3 separate regions of the Homo sapiens genome follow, and all the other regions are linked to region 1. Evidence: fine-mapped expression QTL. A gene starts in region 1. Each other region holds a variant in brackets. All regions are shown on one strand. Distances are between the middles of the regions.

Region 1 (5,237 bases):
AGAGAGAGAAAGAAAGAAAGAAAGAGAAAAAAAGAAAGGAAGGTAGGAAGGAAGGAGGGAAGGAAGAGCGAGCTAGGCAAGGTGTTTCAGGGCCGCCAAGTCTTTCCTACCCGAGTCATCAGCCCCTAGCAGATCGGCCTGTTCATTCCTGCCTGTCTGTGAGCCGACTCTCCTCCGCAAGGAGCTCCGTTGAGTCTCCTTCAATGCCTGATCACCCCAGACCACATGGCGCTTTCCCGCTTCTGTGTCGTATTAACCACTTAACACTGGTCAGGGCCACCCGGCGGCATCTCTCCAACTGCATTGCAAATGACGACGGCTGGAACCACAGCTGCCTCCCCCTCCCCCGGCGTCTCAGCACCCAGCACGGGTGAACGAGGTGGGAAGACCCTGTTAAGCCACAAGCCGTCTCCCTCTGATCACAAGGCCTGCTCCCGGGAACACCAGGCCACATGAAGGAGGGGCCTCACAGTTGCAGGAAATAAATAATTTGGCACAAGGATCAAGATAAAGTAGTTTGAGAAACAGTTGCTGATAATACTTTAGAGAAAAGCCTCGCGGAGTTCAGGTGGTCACCTGAGCATATCTGAACTTCCTGGCCCTACTGGCAGAGATGCGAGGGGGTGGCAGGGAAGTGTGTCTCAGTTCTTGCCATACCTAGCCTAAATACAGGAGGAGGGATGCTATTACAATAGGTTGTTCCATTTTACAAAATACTCATGAACTCACCTCAACAGATGGAGCCTCCTTTGGACTGGACCAAACTCCCCACAGAAATGCCCCTGTGAGGCAAGACTCAGCTGTCCCCGGCCTCCTGACGGCAGCGTTCTTCTCTGCCTGGGACACAGGTCGAAGCTGCCTCATAGGTAATTGGGGGACAGGGGAGGACCCTACCCACTGCAGCCAGGGGCTCAGCCGGGGACCACGGGTGGGGCCTCGACAGACTCCTGGGTGCTGCTCACGGGCAGGTCCCACACGGGACAGAGGGGTCGGCCAGGGCCATCTGGGGCCTCCCAACCCCACCAGGCTGTGAGCTGACAGCACTCCTCTGAGAAATCTGAATTTTTCTAAGAACCTTTCTCCCGTGGTAAAACTCGTGTCTGTTCATTTTAGAGAATACAGATAAGTAAGAAAACGAAAATAAAAGCCGTTCCCCAGGCGGTGGCGTCCCCCCCGTCGAAGCGGCTCCCCAGGCGGCGGCGTCCGCCGGGTCAGCATCCTACGTTCTCCAGTTCTTGTTACTCGTGGCTTTTCAGCGACTCTGGGGCCGCATCGAGCCCCGGCTTTGTGCGGGATGGGTATGGCACACTCGGCCCGAGTCCAAACGCCGCCAGTCACTTGCTCTGAGAGGCTGGATGAGCGACCTACCTTGATGTCCTCGTTCGTAAAATGGGTGACGGTTGCCAGGCCGGGGCGGCTGTGAGGCCCCGTGGGGGTGGCGTTTGGAGAACGCGCGCACACGCCCACCCTTCTGCAAGAACCCCGCAGACGAGAGCCTGTGCGCGCGCACAGGAGGCCCAGGGAGGAAGCCCCTCCCCGCCTGCCCTTGCCATCCCGGAGGCCACAGCCGGACAGGCCCGTGGGACAGGCCCGTGGGACGCTTCTGCACAAGGTCTCTGACCTCCGGCCTCGCAGAAGAGGTCAGAGGGTGGCCCCTGCCTGTCACGCGCCCATGGCGACCCCTCCCCAGAAGGGGTCCCAGCGTGGACTCCAGGCGCCACATCGCTCTCTCAGGGCATCCGGTCTGGGAATTCTGGCCGCTCAAAATAAGACTTCAGCGCTACTGGGTGCTACTGAAACCAAGCCTGAACATGGGCCTTTCCCGGGGGTGAGGCCCCCCGGACCTGGCGCCCTCGGCCCGACAGCGGGGCCCCGCTCCGCCGCCCGCACCCGCCCAGCCCCAGGGAGCGCGGCCCGCACGGAACGCCCGGGGAGTGAAGGCTCAGAACACTCTCGAGGGGACGCTGAGGACCACGAACCGTGGACGCGCCGCGGCTTCCCTCCGAGGTCCGAGTTTTAAGTGAGACCAGCCAGCCGCACCCCAGAGTGTCCGCCCCGTCCCGGGGCCGCCGGGCCTGGCGACGCGAGGATGCGGCGTGAGGAGGGTCCCGACGCCGGCGCCCGTCCCTCAGCCCCACACCCGGGAGCGCATCCCGTCTCCACCGCGGGCGGCACGCGGCGGGGGCCTGCGGGGGCGCCCAGGACACTTACCCAGGGCCTGCGGGGCGCGGAGGCTCAGGCACACCCGCGGGGCAGCGCGCCCTGGCCAGGAGCTGTGGCGGCGGGTGCCGGCGCTCGCATCCCGGGAACCCGCGGCGGCTCCAGGGACTGCCCCACCCCGGCACGCGAGCCGCCCGCCCCGCCCCGCAGCATCCAGGGCCGGGAGGCGGCAGAGGGCGCCCGCGGGTCCGGCTGTCTCGGGTCCGGCTGCCCCAGCTGCCCTGGCGAACCGGAGACGCCATCCGGTTCCCCTGGGGTCCGCCCTGCGCCCTTCGCGTCCCAGTGATCCCCCGGAGTCTCCGTGCCCCGAGGCGGGGGTCGCGCGCTGAGCCCCTCCAGGCCCTGCGTTCCCCCTGGGGTCTGTGTGCGCCCAGGGTCCCCCGGTTCTCCCTGCGCCCCCGTCCCCTCCCCAGCGCTCGCGGCCGGCTGTGCTGAGCTGCCGGCCCTAGAGCCGGGCGGTGTAGACCCGAACAGGTAAAGTGAGGAGAGCGTGTGCCCCCTCGCCTGCCCCATGAGGTCGTTTCGAAAATGTAAAAGGAGTCATGGTTTTTGGCGAATTATAGAGAATATTAAGATGCTTTTGGATCCTGAGCTTCCCAGGAAGCGGACGCGCGCCAGGCACGGCAGGGTCGTCCGTGCGACGTTCTTCGTCCTGGGCATTTCAGGGTCCCACGCGGCAGGTGTGCGGCCCTGGGTGCCCCTGCCCCGCCCACCCCGCCGGTCGGCACCCGGGACCGCGCGGCCGAGAGCAGGGTCCTGCCTGCAGGTCCTTAGGGCTCACCCCGCGCCCTCTGCGCGCCCGCCGGCCCCTCCGACCTCGGGCTGCGCCTTCTCCTTCCCCCTCCCGGTGGTCCTTGGCCCCCTCTAGTCCTCCGTCCGGGCGCGCAGGCCCTGGCTGAATTCCCTGTACCCTCAGGGGATCCCTGGGGACACCTCAGCCTGGCCTCGCACCCTGACGTCTCCACAGACCCTGGCCGGCTTCCACCCGTTCTCGCCCTCGCTGGGGCCGGCCATGGAGTCGGTGGTCCCTGGAGTCCGCTCCTCAGCATCCGCGGTCCTCATCCCAGCCGGGGGAACCGCGCCCTCTTCATCCCGCAAGGTCGGTTTTCAGCAACGCGGCCGAGGCTGTCACTGGCGCCCCCAGGTTCTCAGTCAAACCCCGTCTCCCTGACGCCCCCAACCCGCCCCGCGCCTCCTGCTGTTCTCTGAATAAGGCGTGCGGGCCTTGGGGCCTTTGCACTCGCTGTCTGCTGTCGGCTCAGGAAAAGTCTCTTTTCCAGACACAGCTCCCAAGGTGGGGTGGGCGCAGCTGAGAAGCCCACCCTGCCCCCAAGTGGCCACCGCCCCTCCCCGGGTGTAGCTCCTGCAGGGCAGCCCAGAATTGCTGAGTTCTGCCGCTCTGTCCCCAGGGGTCACCAAGTCGGCTCTGCTCACCTCTGGTTCCTGTCGAATAGCAGAGGCTCAAAAATGTGAGCTGAGTAAATGGGCTTTTTTGGGACAGAGTCTTGCTTTGTCACCCAGGCCTGAGAGCAGTGGTGCGATCTCAGTTCACTGCAGCCTCTGCCTCCAGGGCTCAAGCGATTCTCGTGCCTCAGCCTCCCAAGTAGCTGGGATTACAGTCGCGCGCCACCACACCTGGCTAATTTTTTTTTTTTTTTAAGTAGATAGTGGTTTTGCCATCTTGGCCAGGCTGGTCTCGAACTCCTGACCTCAGGTGATCCACCCACCTCGGCTTGCCAAAGTGTTGGGATTACAGGCATGAGCCACTATGCCACTGAGACAGCCAGGAGCCCTGGGTGCACACATTTATTTTTTGATATGGAACAATGTGCAACTATATTGCTGTATTTTTAAAAATCATTAGTTTTATCTTGATCCAATTTTTGTAAAGTGAATTATGCACAGAAAATGTGTAGCTGGATAACTCTGAGGTAACAGGTGAACTTTAATTTCTTTTTACTTTTTGAAAAGTCTACAATTCCTGTAAATTTTTGCAAGAAGCACATAGTACCTTTGTGATCTGTTAAAATAAGAACCTGTGGGTAGAATGTGATGGTGGTGAGCCGCAGTCCCCCTGCATGGGAAGACAGCACCCCCATGTCTCAGGGCAAGCACGGGTTCCCTTCCACCTACCCTGTCCCACCAGAACCAACTGGAATGAGACACTTTGTTACTCTATTTCCTGGGTACAGAAGGAAACTGCTCCTCCTTCCTTCCCACTGCCCTTGACCGGCACAGGCCATCCACGCCCACCTGTCCCCTGTGCTTGTCCCCAAAGTCTCAGGTCTCTGCAGGACCTGGGGCAGCCAGTGGGACTGTGCAGAAAAAGGATGACCCTGCCGTGGGAGCCACTGCCCCTAAAGTCTCAGGGTTTAGCAGGCAGAGCCCCACGTGGAGTCCTGGAGTCTCTGGGCACCCCACCAGCACAATGGGGGATCCCTGAGCCACCTCCCGTTCAGACGGGCTATTGGGCGTGCCTCCCTCCCCACCACGAAGGTCCAGATGCAGCTGACACCCCCAGTCACAGAGTCTCCTTTCTGCCTCTGTGCTGGGGACCCTGTTCAGGAGGTCTCCTCCCTCCAGTCCGGACTTGCTGTCCCCAGTGTCATTGAACCCTCTGGCTCCCACCCACACTCCCAGCAGCTGGAGACACACCCCTTTCTCCTGGGCCACTGGTCCTCTCGGGACTCTGAACCAGAGGCGCTAACACCTGGCAGGGATGGCAGCTGGGGCAGGACTGGAAGCCTCCGAGGACCCACCCCCAGCTCCGGGTACCCCCACACTGGAGTCTGGTGCGGTGGGTCCCCAGAGCCATATGAGCTGGACTTGGCCTCCAGTGGACCGCCACATGGCAGGTGCCCACGGCCGGCTGCAGCGCCAGGCCCCTCCCAAACAGGCCCAAGTTGGCTTCACAGAAGTGTGGGGGCAAAGCTGCTCTTCATGGGCCTCCAGGAGTGGTGACTGTGACTGCCCCCTCCTGTCCTCTCCTGGCCACACCTTTGCCTCCCACAGGCAGG
Region 2 (5,237 bases), 89 kb after region 1:
TATTTTCAATACATAGTTGGCTGAAACCACACATGTGGAACCAATGGGTACGGAGGGCCACCATATTCCAAAAAACCATTTGACTTCTCTGTTTTTTTTTTTTTTTTTTTTTTTTTTGAGACAGAGTGTTGCTCTGTCGCCCAGGCTGGAGTGCAGTGGTGTGATCTCAGCTCACTGCAAGCTCCGCCTCCCAGGTTCACGCCATTCTCCTGCCTCAGCCTCCCGAGTAGCTGGGACTACAGGCACCTGCCATCACGCCCGGCTAATTTTTTGTATTTTTAGTAGAGACGGGGTTTCACCGTGTTAGCCAGGATGGTCTCGATCTCCTGACCTCCTGATCTGCCCGCTTCAGCCTCCCAAAGTGCTGGGATTACAGGCGTGAGCCACTGCGCCCCACCTGACTTCTCTGTTTTTTTAATATAAAAATGTAAAACCTCTAAAGGCCATACCAGCAGATATTTAGCAAATGTCATTACATTAAAGAACAGGGTCAGGCAATGAAAGAGCTGCAAACTGTTTTACTGAAAGCCAAATAACCCACACACTTTGAAAGCTGCCAAAAAACATCTGTGGGTATCAGACACAACACCCAAGGCTCACATGCCGACTTCAGGTTGGGTGTGTGTCTCTCTCTCCCATACTCCGTCACATACTCACACACACTAAGAGAAACTCTGTTCCACAGATTTGAGAAAGAAACTGGCTAAAATTTTCAAAATGTAGGTCTTTAGGAAAATATCGCAGACTAACAGACGCCTGCCAGCAGCTAAGAGAGGTGGCTGTGCACATGCGCCTGCACACGAAGGTGAGGGCGAGCGGTGCTGAAACTCACAGAAGCAACCCCGGCCCGTGTGCCCGCTCAGACAGTGCTGGTGGTAAATCACACGCACCTTCCTTCTCGGATCTCCAGAGTCATGGACCGAGACACCACATCTCTAGACGCCAGGTCCTTCGCGACAGGGGCGTATCGCTCCATAAACCTTTCGCCTTGACTGTTAATGAGAATGCCTCCCTCTCCACGACATCCTTCCGTAATGAGACAACCAGCACCATATATGCCTGCAAAAAACCACACATATTTATTACCTAACAATTGCTAGATCTCTATTTCAAATGCATTATTTTTTTCAAGACATTTTTTGGGGGAAAGAGGAAAAAGATAAGCAGAAGGCATTATGTGCAAAACTGCACAGCAAGACAGTTAAGATACAGTAGAAAGTCTGGATAACAAAAAGCACTGACAAGGCTGACAGCTGCAGCAGAGGCTGGGGCAGAGCGGTGTCCCCAGAGAGGAGAAAGGCCGGCCCACAGACCTCTGGCCAATACTCTGATTACAGCCCAGTGTACGTTGGATGCCTCAAATTTTGTTTTAATTTTTGAACATTCTTTTGCACTATGATACTGTGGTGACTAGTTAAGAATACTAGCTTGAAGTATTCATATCTAAATTATCCAAACAGTGACAAGGACAGTAATAATGATTATTTTAGATAATATTTACACTGCACTTGCTATGGGCAGTTCTAGCTGCTTTCCACATATTAACTCGTTTAAGTCTTACAACAACTCTGGGTAGTACGACCCCCTTTCTCAGTGACAAGCAAATTAACACTTGGTAACATCCAGTCATGCAGCTGAGGACAGAGCTCAAACCCAAACCTGGGTAGTCCGGCGGTCTGTGCTCCAAACAGCGGCTCTGTGACTCCTCAGTGCGATGAGAAACAGGGCATGCCAAGCTCTCGAATTTTAACAAAGGAGATCAAAAACCCTAAACTAAATGTATTTCGAAAGCTACAATTTTTATTAGTATACAAAAAGGGCAATCTTGCTTTTAAAAAACGAATGTGATTCTTGTCTGTCTTTTGATTTTCTAAGTTTCAATGCTCTTTTTTCTGTGGTTACTTCTCACATACTGAAGACAAAGCATGAGCAGTGGAGCTCTAAGCAAATTACAGAGGGAATTCAGGGGCTCAGTGACATTTTATTCATTAAAAACAGTAATAAAAAATACAACAGGCCGGGTGCAGTGGCTCATGGCTATAATCCCAG[G/T]ACCCTGAGGGGCCGAGGCAGGAGGATGGCCTAAGCCCTGGAGTTTGAGACCAGCCTGGGCAAAACGGTGACATCCCGTCTCTACCAAAAACGAAAAAACCCTCGAAAATTAGCTGGGCATGGTAACACATGCCTGTAGTCCCAGCTGTTTGGGAGGCTGAGGTGGAAGGATCGTTTGAGCCTGGGAGACAAAGGCTGCAGTGAGTCAAGATTGCTCCACTGCACTCCAGCCTGAGCAACAGAGCAAGACCCCATCTCGAAACAAATAAAAAAAAAACACTACAACAAATTCATTTCTTATTTTCATCCCTTCCAGGGATCAGAAAGCTGACACTGACAGAGAAAGAGAAGACACAGGTCTGGTTCTTTGGCACCACTTCAGAGGTCTCCATCGTCCACAGGTCAGAAAAGCAACCCAGAAAAGTATAGGACAAGTCACCTCAAACAAGAGGCAGGTGTGTGTCTGTCTCTGACTCATTCTGAAGAACCTCCTCCAAACTCAAGACTTCAACTGTCATTTCTGAGTTAATGTCTCCGAATTGCACATTCGTAACCTCAACCGTCAGACGTCCCCAAGACGAGCTCATCTTCCCCACGACAAGCTCTCTCAGTGGTCACGTGGGCTGAGCCCAGCGCCCAATGTCACATGGGGTTCTGTCACGGCTGCGTCCTAACTTTACATCCCATTGTCACAGAAGCTCCGTGTTCTCCTACAAAGCTGAAGTCTGCCTGTGCTGCTTCTCGGTTCCATGGCATTCTCCCAGCTCTCAGAATGTTCACTCAGTAAACCCCGGTGGAGACCCTACCATGTGCTGGGCATGGAGCACCACAGCTAACGAGAAGACCTGCCTGCCCGAGGAGCTGACGACCTCGTTGCGAAGAGGGACACTGAACAATCCCTGCTTTACTTTTTTTTTTTTTTTTTTTGAGACGGAGTCTTACTCTGTTGCCCAGGCTGGAGTGCAGTGGCGCGATCTCGGCTCACTGCAACCTCTGCCTCCCAGGTTCAAGCATTCCTCCCACCTCAGCCTCCCAAGTACCTGGGATTACAGGTACACGCCATCACGCCCAGCTGATTTTTGTATTTTTAGTAGAGACGAGGTGTCACCATGTTGGTCAGGCTGGTCTCGAACTCCTGACCTCAGGTGATCCGCCCGCCTTGGCCTCCTAAAGTGCTGGGACTACAGGAGTGAGCCACTGTGCTCGGCCTCAATCCCTGCTTTACTGCTGGCTTAAGTATCACCAAGGCAGGGTTTAGCGCTCTTGAGAAATACATAAGACGGTGGCCCAAACTGCCTTAGGGGAAGGGGAGTGTGGGAAAAGTCTCCTTAGGTAAATGACGTTGAAGTTAGGACCTGAGAGCTGAGGAAGCTGATCTTCAAAACCATGTTATTACATAAAACTATGGAAGAGCAATGAGTAGGCATCACATGCTTACAAGACACACACAAGCCAAACACCTGCCGGGCAAGGCGTCCTGCCCTACCTGTAGGGTGGAACTGAACAAACTCTAGGTCCTGGCAAGGAAGGCCTGCCCTGGTGATCATGGCCGTGCCGTCGCCAGTGCTGGTGTGGGCAGACGTGCAGCTGAAGTAGGTGCGCCCGTAGCCTCTGGAAACAATAGAGAGCAGTGACTGCACACAGCGGCCCACATCTGGACCTCCTATCTGGTGAGATCACAGAATGGACACGGCAGCCCCCAGCACCGTCTTCTCAGTGCTGTGCACACACAACCCCCTACTCACGCACACCCCACACATATCACTAGGGGCCGCGCCACTGGTGCTGCTACCCTGCACAGGTAGGATAGAAGCCTGGGATCAAAGAAAGGACTTCCATTTGTATTTTATTTATTTATTTTGAGATAGGATCTAACTCTGTTGACCAGGCTGGAGTAGAGTGGTGCGATCTCGGCTCACAGCAACCTCCGGCTCCCAGGTTCAAGTGATTCTTCCGCCTCAGCCTCCCGAGTAGCTGGGATTACAGTGTGCACCACCACGCCCAGTTAATTTTTGTATTTTTAGTAGAGATGGGGTTTCACCATGTTGGCCAGGCTGGTCTCGAACTCCTGACCTCAAGTGATCCTCCCACTTTGGCCTCCCAAAGTGCCGGGATTACAGGCGTGAGCCACTGCACACCTGGCCCTATTTGTATTTTAGCTTTGTGCTGTTCAAAAGGTTTCCCCAATAAGCATATACTACTTTTATAATGAAAATTTTAAAATTTTTATGGATTTTTTTCTCCCCCAGATTTACTGAGGTATGATTGATGAATTTAAAAAAAAAACTATATATTTATGGTGTACAGCGTGATGATTTATTTTGTGAAATGATGACACAATCAAGTTAATACACATCTATCACCTCATACAATTATCCTTTTTTTGGAGATACAGACGCCTAACGTCTACTATCTTCGCAAATTTCAAGTTATAATATTAACGATAGCCACCATGCTGTATAATATTAACTCTAGCCACCATGCTGTATAATGTTAACTCTAGCCACCATGCTGTATAATATTAACGATAGCCACCATGCTGTATATTAACTCTAGCCACCGTGCTGTATAATGTTAACTCTGGCCACCATGCTGTATAATGTTAACTCTGGCCACCATGCTGTATAATGTTAACGATAGCCAGCATGCTGTATAATGTTAACTCTAGCCACCATGCTGTATAATGTTAACTCTAGCCACCATGCTGTATAATGTTAACTCTAACCACCATGCTGTATAATGTTAACTATAGCCACCATGCTGTATAATGTTAACTCTGGCCACCATGCTGTATAATGTTAACTATAGCCACCATGTTGTATATTAGACCTTCAGAACTTCACCTTGTAACGGGAAGTTACACCTTTAATCAGCATCGCCACAGTCTGCATTCCCCCAGCCCCTGGCAACCACTGTCCTACTCTGTTTCTGTGAGTTGTGACTGTTTTAGATTCCACATGAGTGACATGCAGTATCTGTCTTTCTGTGCCTGGCTCGTTTCACTTAACATAATGACTTTGGGTTCATCCACGTTGTCACACATGACAGGATTTCCTTCATTTTCATAGCCGAATAATATTCAGTTGTGTATACACACCACATTGTCATTAAACACCAACACATATTTAGGTTGTTTCCATATCTCGGGTATTGTGAATAATGCTGCAATGAACATAGGGTCCAGGTGT
Region 3 (5,199 bases), 130 kb after region 1:
CCAACCTGGAGCTCACAAAAACATGTGTTGTATGAAATCAAGGTTTAAGGGATCTAGGGCTGTGCAGGACGTGCCTTGTTAACAAAATGTTTACAAGCAGTATGCTTGGTAAAAGTCATCGCTATTCTCTAGTCTCAATAAACCAGAGGCACAATGCACTGCGGAAAGCCGCAGGGACCTCTGCCCTTGAAAGCCGGGTATTGTCCACGGTTTCTCCCCATGTGATAGTCTGAAATATGGCCTCGTGGAATGAGAAAGACCTGACCGTCCCCCAGCCCGACACCCGTAAAGGGTCTGTGCTGACATGGGTTAGTAAAAGACGAAAGCCTCTTGCAGTTGAGAGAGAGAAGTCCACTGTCTCCTGCTCGCCGCTGGGAACTGAATGTCGCGGTGTAAAACCCGATTGTACATTTGTTCAACTCTGAGACAGGAGAAAAGCCGCCTTGTGGCGGGAGGCGAGACATGTTTGCGGCAATGCTGCCTTGTTATTCTTTACTCTGCTGAGATGTTTGGGTGGAGAGAAACATAAATCTGGCCTACGTGCACGTCCAGGCATAGTACCTTCCCTTGAACTTAATTACGACATAGATTCTTTTGCTCACACGTTTTTGCTGACCTCCTCCTTATTATCACCCTGCTCTCCTACTACATTCCTTTTTGCTGAAATAATGAAAATAATAATAAAAACTGAGGGAACTCAGAGGCCGGTGCCAGTGCAGGTCCTTGGTATGCTGAGCGCCGGTCCCCTGGGCCCACTGTTGTTTCTCTATACTTTGTGTCTTACTTCTTTTCTCAGTCTCTCGTCCCACCCAACTAGAAATACCCACAGGTGTGGAGGGGCAGGCCACCCCTTCACAGCGGGGGTGGGGACACACCTGGAGTGGGGTGACATGGGGGCCCCTGGGGTGGGGACACACCTGGAGTGGGGTGACATGGGGGCCCCTGGGGTGGGGACACACTCGGGGGGGGGTGACACAGGGGCCATTGGGGTGAGGACACACTCCGGGAGGGGGTGACACAGGGCAGCAGGGGTGGGGGCACACCTGGGGAGGGGGTGACACGGGGCCCCCTGGGGTGGGGACACACTCGGGGTGACATGGGGGCCCCCGGGTTGGGGACACACTCGGGGAGGGGGTGACACCTGAGGAGGGGATGACATGGGGCCCCTGGGGTGGGGACACACCCGTGGTGGGCGCTGTCATGAGGTGTGACTTTTGAGCGGAGCCATGGACACACAGTGACTCAGATCCCTGGTTTTGGGTCTGAGAACGACTTAACCACACCAAGCACTGACCTGTCTGAACTGCACTGAAAGACGCATTTTATTTGCATTTAGTTATTCTAGTGCTCAGCCATTTCTTTGCACAAAGTCACTCTTGGTGGACACCAAGTCCAAATGTGTCTTAGGTGGTTGTCAGCTCCTCCAGGGGCTGGTCAAGTGCTAGACCTTCAATTAAACACCCGGAATAGCTCCCGTCAGTCTAAGCCTCAAGCCCCGCAGGACACAGTGAATGTTGGTGAGAAACAGTGGCGCGGTCGGGCAAAGGCCTCCCCGCAGCGCTGACCGCCCTGGTCCAGGCGGCTCTTCAGCGGACGCCTGTGCTCACCCACTCGGATGCCCCTCACGGTTCTGGGGGCTACACAAAGTGAGAAGAAAAGCCACCACTAACAGCAACCAGAAGCCCCGCGTTCCCTGCAGGCCCACCTCATCCCGTAAGCGGCAGGTCCAGACAGCGGGTTGTGACCAGCAGTGGGTGGGAGCCTCCTGCTGGAGGAAGCAGGGTCCGGTTTGCTGTTCATTTTTCGCCTCTTTTTCTCGGTTGTTTTTCATGGGCTGCTTATTTTGTGCAGTTTCTGTGATGTGTTCTCTCTTCCCCTCCCCCTCCCTGCTGTGGAGCCCAGTCACATCTGCCCCCTGAAGCTTCATCTTGCGCCCAGTGCCCAGATGCGCTGAGGCCAGGTCGGCCACTCCTCACACCTCCCGGGCTTCTCTGCTCTTTGCCATGTGGCGTCTGCCCCCGCTGACCCTGTCACTGTCTCTTGGTGGCTTCCCCCGCCTCCAGAACCTTGCCGTGCTGCCACTAAAGGGCACCGCATGGCACCTCTCCTGGAAGGCTTCCTCTTCTACAAC[G/A]CTTAACAGGCTCGCCTACAATTTTCACTAAGAACTGCTTTTGGTGGTGGTGGTGGTGGGGATGAATGCCGGGCCCAAGCCTCAGATCCAGGACTAAAGCCCGGGGCACCTGCAGGCTGAAATGCAAGACCTGTCACTGGTGCGAGTGGAGGAACTACTCTATTTGTTTGAGTGCTCTGGAGAAGTTTTCTAGAGCAGTTTTGAAAGCTTGCAGCAAGAAAGCACCAAGCTCATTGCTTGTTTCTTGAATGTCTGGGTCAAAACTTCCAAAGAGAGGTGTGGAGACTTGGATGTCCTCTCGGTCAGCCCGCAGCAGCACGGCACGCAGCTCCTCGGCGATCTCGTCGTATTTCTGCTGGTTGAACTTGGACATGGCCAGCTCGTCCTGTGGGTAGGCGGCACCCTCGGGGTAGCAGTCCTTGGGCACCGGGAACTCAATGCAGCGCAGCTCGGGGAGCTCACAGAGTGCGGTGAAGAGGCGCCGGAGGGCGCGGGCCGACAGCGGGTTCCCGAGGAACTTGAGCTGGCGCAGCCGGTGGCAGGGGCTCAGGCCCAGGATCAGCATGCCAACGTGGCTGTCTACGATGCCACACTCCTCCAGTGTCAGGATCCTCAGCGTCCGGGAAGCCTGGCTGAGCAGCCTGAAGAAGGTCGAGGGGTACAGGCTGACCAGGTTGTGTCCACTGAGGTCCAGCACCTCCAGGTGGGCAGCGTGGGCACAGTCTGCCAAGAAGGCCATGTCCGTGTGGTTCAGGGCACAGTTGGCCAGGTCCAGTACTCGCAGCGGGGTCTGTAGGGGGCTGCAGGACACGGGGGAAAGAGCACAGGTGAGAGGAGGGTCCCAGGAAGGAGCCGAGGGCTCAGGCGAATGGGAACAACCCATTTGTCCATCATGGGGTCAACACACAGTCACGTCCAACCACCGCCTAATTTCATACAGCCTATGAGCTAGGAGTGGTTGTTATATTTATATAATAGTTTGTGAAACGTGAAAAGTTACATGATATTCAAACTCGGTGTCCATAAATAACATTTTACCAGAGCACAACCACGTGCATTCGCTTAGTGTTGGCCATGACTGCCGGCCGCCACGTGGTGAAGTCAGCTATACCCAGAGGTCTGGCTTTTGTCCTCAGCACCTAAATGGTAAGTTTGTTTTGTCAACAGCTGCTTTTGTGTTGTCTGAGAAAAGTGATGCATGTGACCACGAGAACGTCCACTCAGAAAGTGGACGGGGTGGGGCAGTGAGACCACAGGACAGAATGTCAGCTCAGAAAGCAGACGGCGGGGGGCAGTGAGACCACAGGACAGAATGTCTGCTCAGAAAGCAGACGGCGGGGGGCAGTGAGACCACAGGACAGTGCCGCTCCACTCTGACAAAGATGAATCCCGCATGGTTTCAGAGCTGGGAAGGGCCATGGAGGCTTCCAGTACAGCCTTTGACTCACCTGGGAACCCTAAAGACCCCCCAACTTGCCCCACATCCCATATTCTGACTTGGTTGGTGTAGGGCAGCCTAGCTCTAATACAGGGGCAGTTGGAGTGAGACCTACTCTGGTTCTGAGCTAAGGGAGATCTCCAGAGCAGAACTGCATCGGGACATGGCCTCACTGTCCTCGCTGAGCCGGGGGACACAGCTGGGGTCTGCCCCATCCCAACCCTCTCCTTAGGAGGCTGCCTCACTCTTCACCCACCTGCACCTGCACCCACCTGCATGTCCCGCCCAGGACATGTCCCTCCCCACCCAGGACTGGGACCACTGCCAGGTGCCCCTGTCCCACCTGAGAAACCACGCCAGGCATGCCCCCTGCCCAAGGTCCCACCGCAGGGCACCTCTATCCCTCAGGACCCACCGCAGGGCACCCCCATCCTTCAGGACCCACCGCCAGGCATCCCCCACCAGGATCTACTGCCTGGTGCCACCCCAGGACCCACAGCCAGCCACCCCCCACCCCAGGACTCACCACCAGGTGCCCCCACTTCAGGACCCACCACCAGGCACCCCTACCACCGCCAGGCACTTCTCCCCAAAACCCACTGCCAAACGCCCCACCAGGACCCACTGCCATGTGCCCCCAGCCCCCAGAACCCACCGCCAGGCACCCCCCAGCACCTGAGGACCCACCTCTAGGTGCTTCCCCAGTACCTACCAGGCACCCCTTCCCCCTAGACCCACTGCCAGGTCCCACCCCCAGGACCCAAAACTGGGTGCCCCCCGGACCCACCGCTAGGTTGCCCCACCAGGACCCATCACCCGGTGACCCCAATACCCACCGCCAGCTGCCCCTCCTTCAGGACCCACCACCAGGCTCCCTCCCAGCACCCATTGCCAGGCACCCCGTTCCCCAGGACCCATCACTGGGCACCCCCCTTGGACCCACCGCTAGGCACTCCCCCTCCAGGATCCACTGCTGGGCACCCCCCTTGGACCCACCGCCGGGCATCCCCCTCACCACTGCCTGAGGCTGCCTTGGCCTGGCCCCTTCCTAGCTGCTGCCCTCTCTGCCTCCTTCACGCAGATCTGCTGAGAGGATCCTGCATAAGCCTCCTGTCCCACCATGGGGAGGTCCATGCAGCATGGAGCCCAGGCCTCCCTCGAGGGAGACTGGGAGGATCCCGCCCTGTCAGGCCTTCGGATGAGATGGCACCCTTGGCCAACAGCAGCCCTGAGCCAAAGGCACCGACAGGCTCAGATTTCTGAGCTGAAATCGTGTTTGCTGTTTGAAGCCCCCAAGTGTTGGGGTGAGTCGTTCATCAACAATAGACAACTCCTCACACCACGTAGGCACTTCTGTTTCGTCTGTTTGGTAATTTCCGTATTCTCTTTTTTTAACTGGCATTCTCTCCACATCCCTAAGTCACACATGGCAGCCCGCTTCTTTCCTGGTGGCTCTGACTTTCGGTGCTCTTGCCCCTTGGCGGGGCCGCTGTCCTGTGGCTGTGGCCACACCCGGAGTGAGAGGCTGGAGGCCGTGTAGCCTCATGGCCTTGGACATGAGCAGGCCCCTGGACGATCTCTCCTTGCCTCTGCAGCCACCAGCCCGCCCTCAGTCCCCTCCCCAAGACTC

Alleles and levels. Positions count from the first base shown, and alleles are read on the strand shown. Sizes are in standard deviations (SD) of each study's normalised expression. Not every link is listed here.
For the expression in tibial nerve of the gene that starts at base 2,317 in region 1, allele T in region 2 goes with a higher level than allele G (large effect, 1.1 SD a copy in GTEx).

Evidence for each region. PIP is the estimated chance that this variant, and not a neighbour inherited with it, causes the effect. A credible set is the group of variants that fine-mapping cannot tell apart.
Region 2: its variant is the best candidate, but not a certain one, in a credible set for the expression of AHRR in tibial nerve (GTEx, PIP 0.84).
Region 3: its variant is the best candidate, but not a certain one, in a credible set for the expression of AHRR in whole blood (TOPMed, PIP 0.70).

Annotation. Positions count from the first base shown.
Region 1 is chr5:318,794-324,030 of GRCh38, reverse strand. AHRR (aryl hydrocarbon receptor repressor) reads right to left here and starts at 2,317. Exons shown (of 11, transcript NM_001377236.1): 1 at 2,212-2,317. The region is part of intron 3 of PDCD6-AHRR (PDCD6-AHRR readthrough (NMD candidate)); the gene reads right to left. RefSeq lists enhancers at 1,306-1,425, 1,514-2,081, 5,215-5,237 and silencers at 1,666-1,725, 1,736-2,115, 2,206-2,695, 2,846-3,105.
Region 2 is chr5:229,299-234,535 of GRCh38, reverse strand. It overlaps SDHA (succinate dehydrogenase complex flavoprotein subunit A), which reads right to left. Exons shown (of 15, transcript NM_004168.4): 7 at 3,536-3,660; 8 at 891-1,059. Among named protein-coding and RNA genes, the nearest start is that of SDHA, 14 kb to the right of the region's middle. The variant G/T (reference allele first, on the strand shown) is at 2,050.
Region 3 is chr5:192,440-197,638 of GRCh38, reverse strand. It overlaps LRRC14B (leucine rich repeat containing 14B), which reads right to left. Exons shown (of 2, transcript NM_001080478.3): 2 at 1,305-2,931. The coding sequence ends at 2,286. CCDC127 (coiled-coil domain containing 127) reads left to right here. Exons shown (of 3, transcript NM_145265.3): 3 at 1-771. LOC124900929 (a long non-coding RNA gene) reads left to right here and starts at 2,912. Exons shown (of 2, transcript XR_007058670.1): 1 at 2,912-3,277; 2 at 4,651-4,911. The variant G/A (reference allele first, on the strand shown) is at 2,132.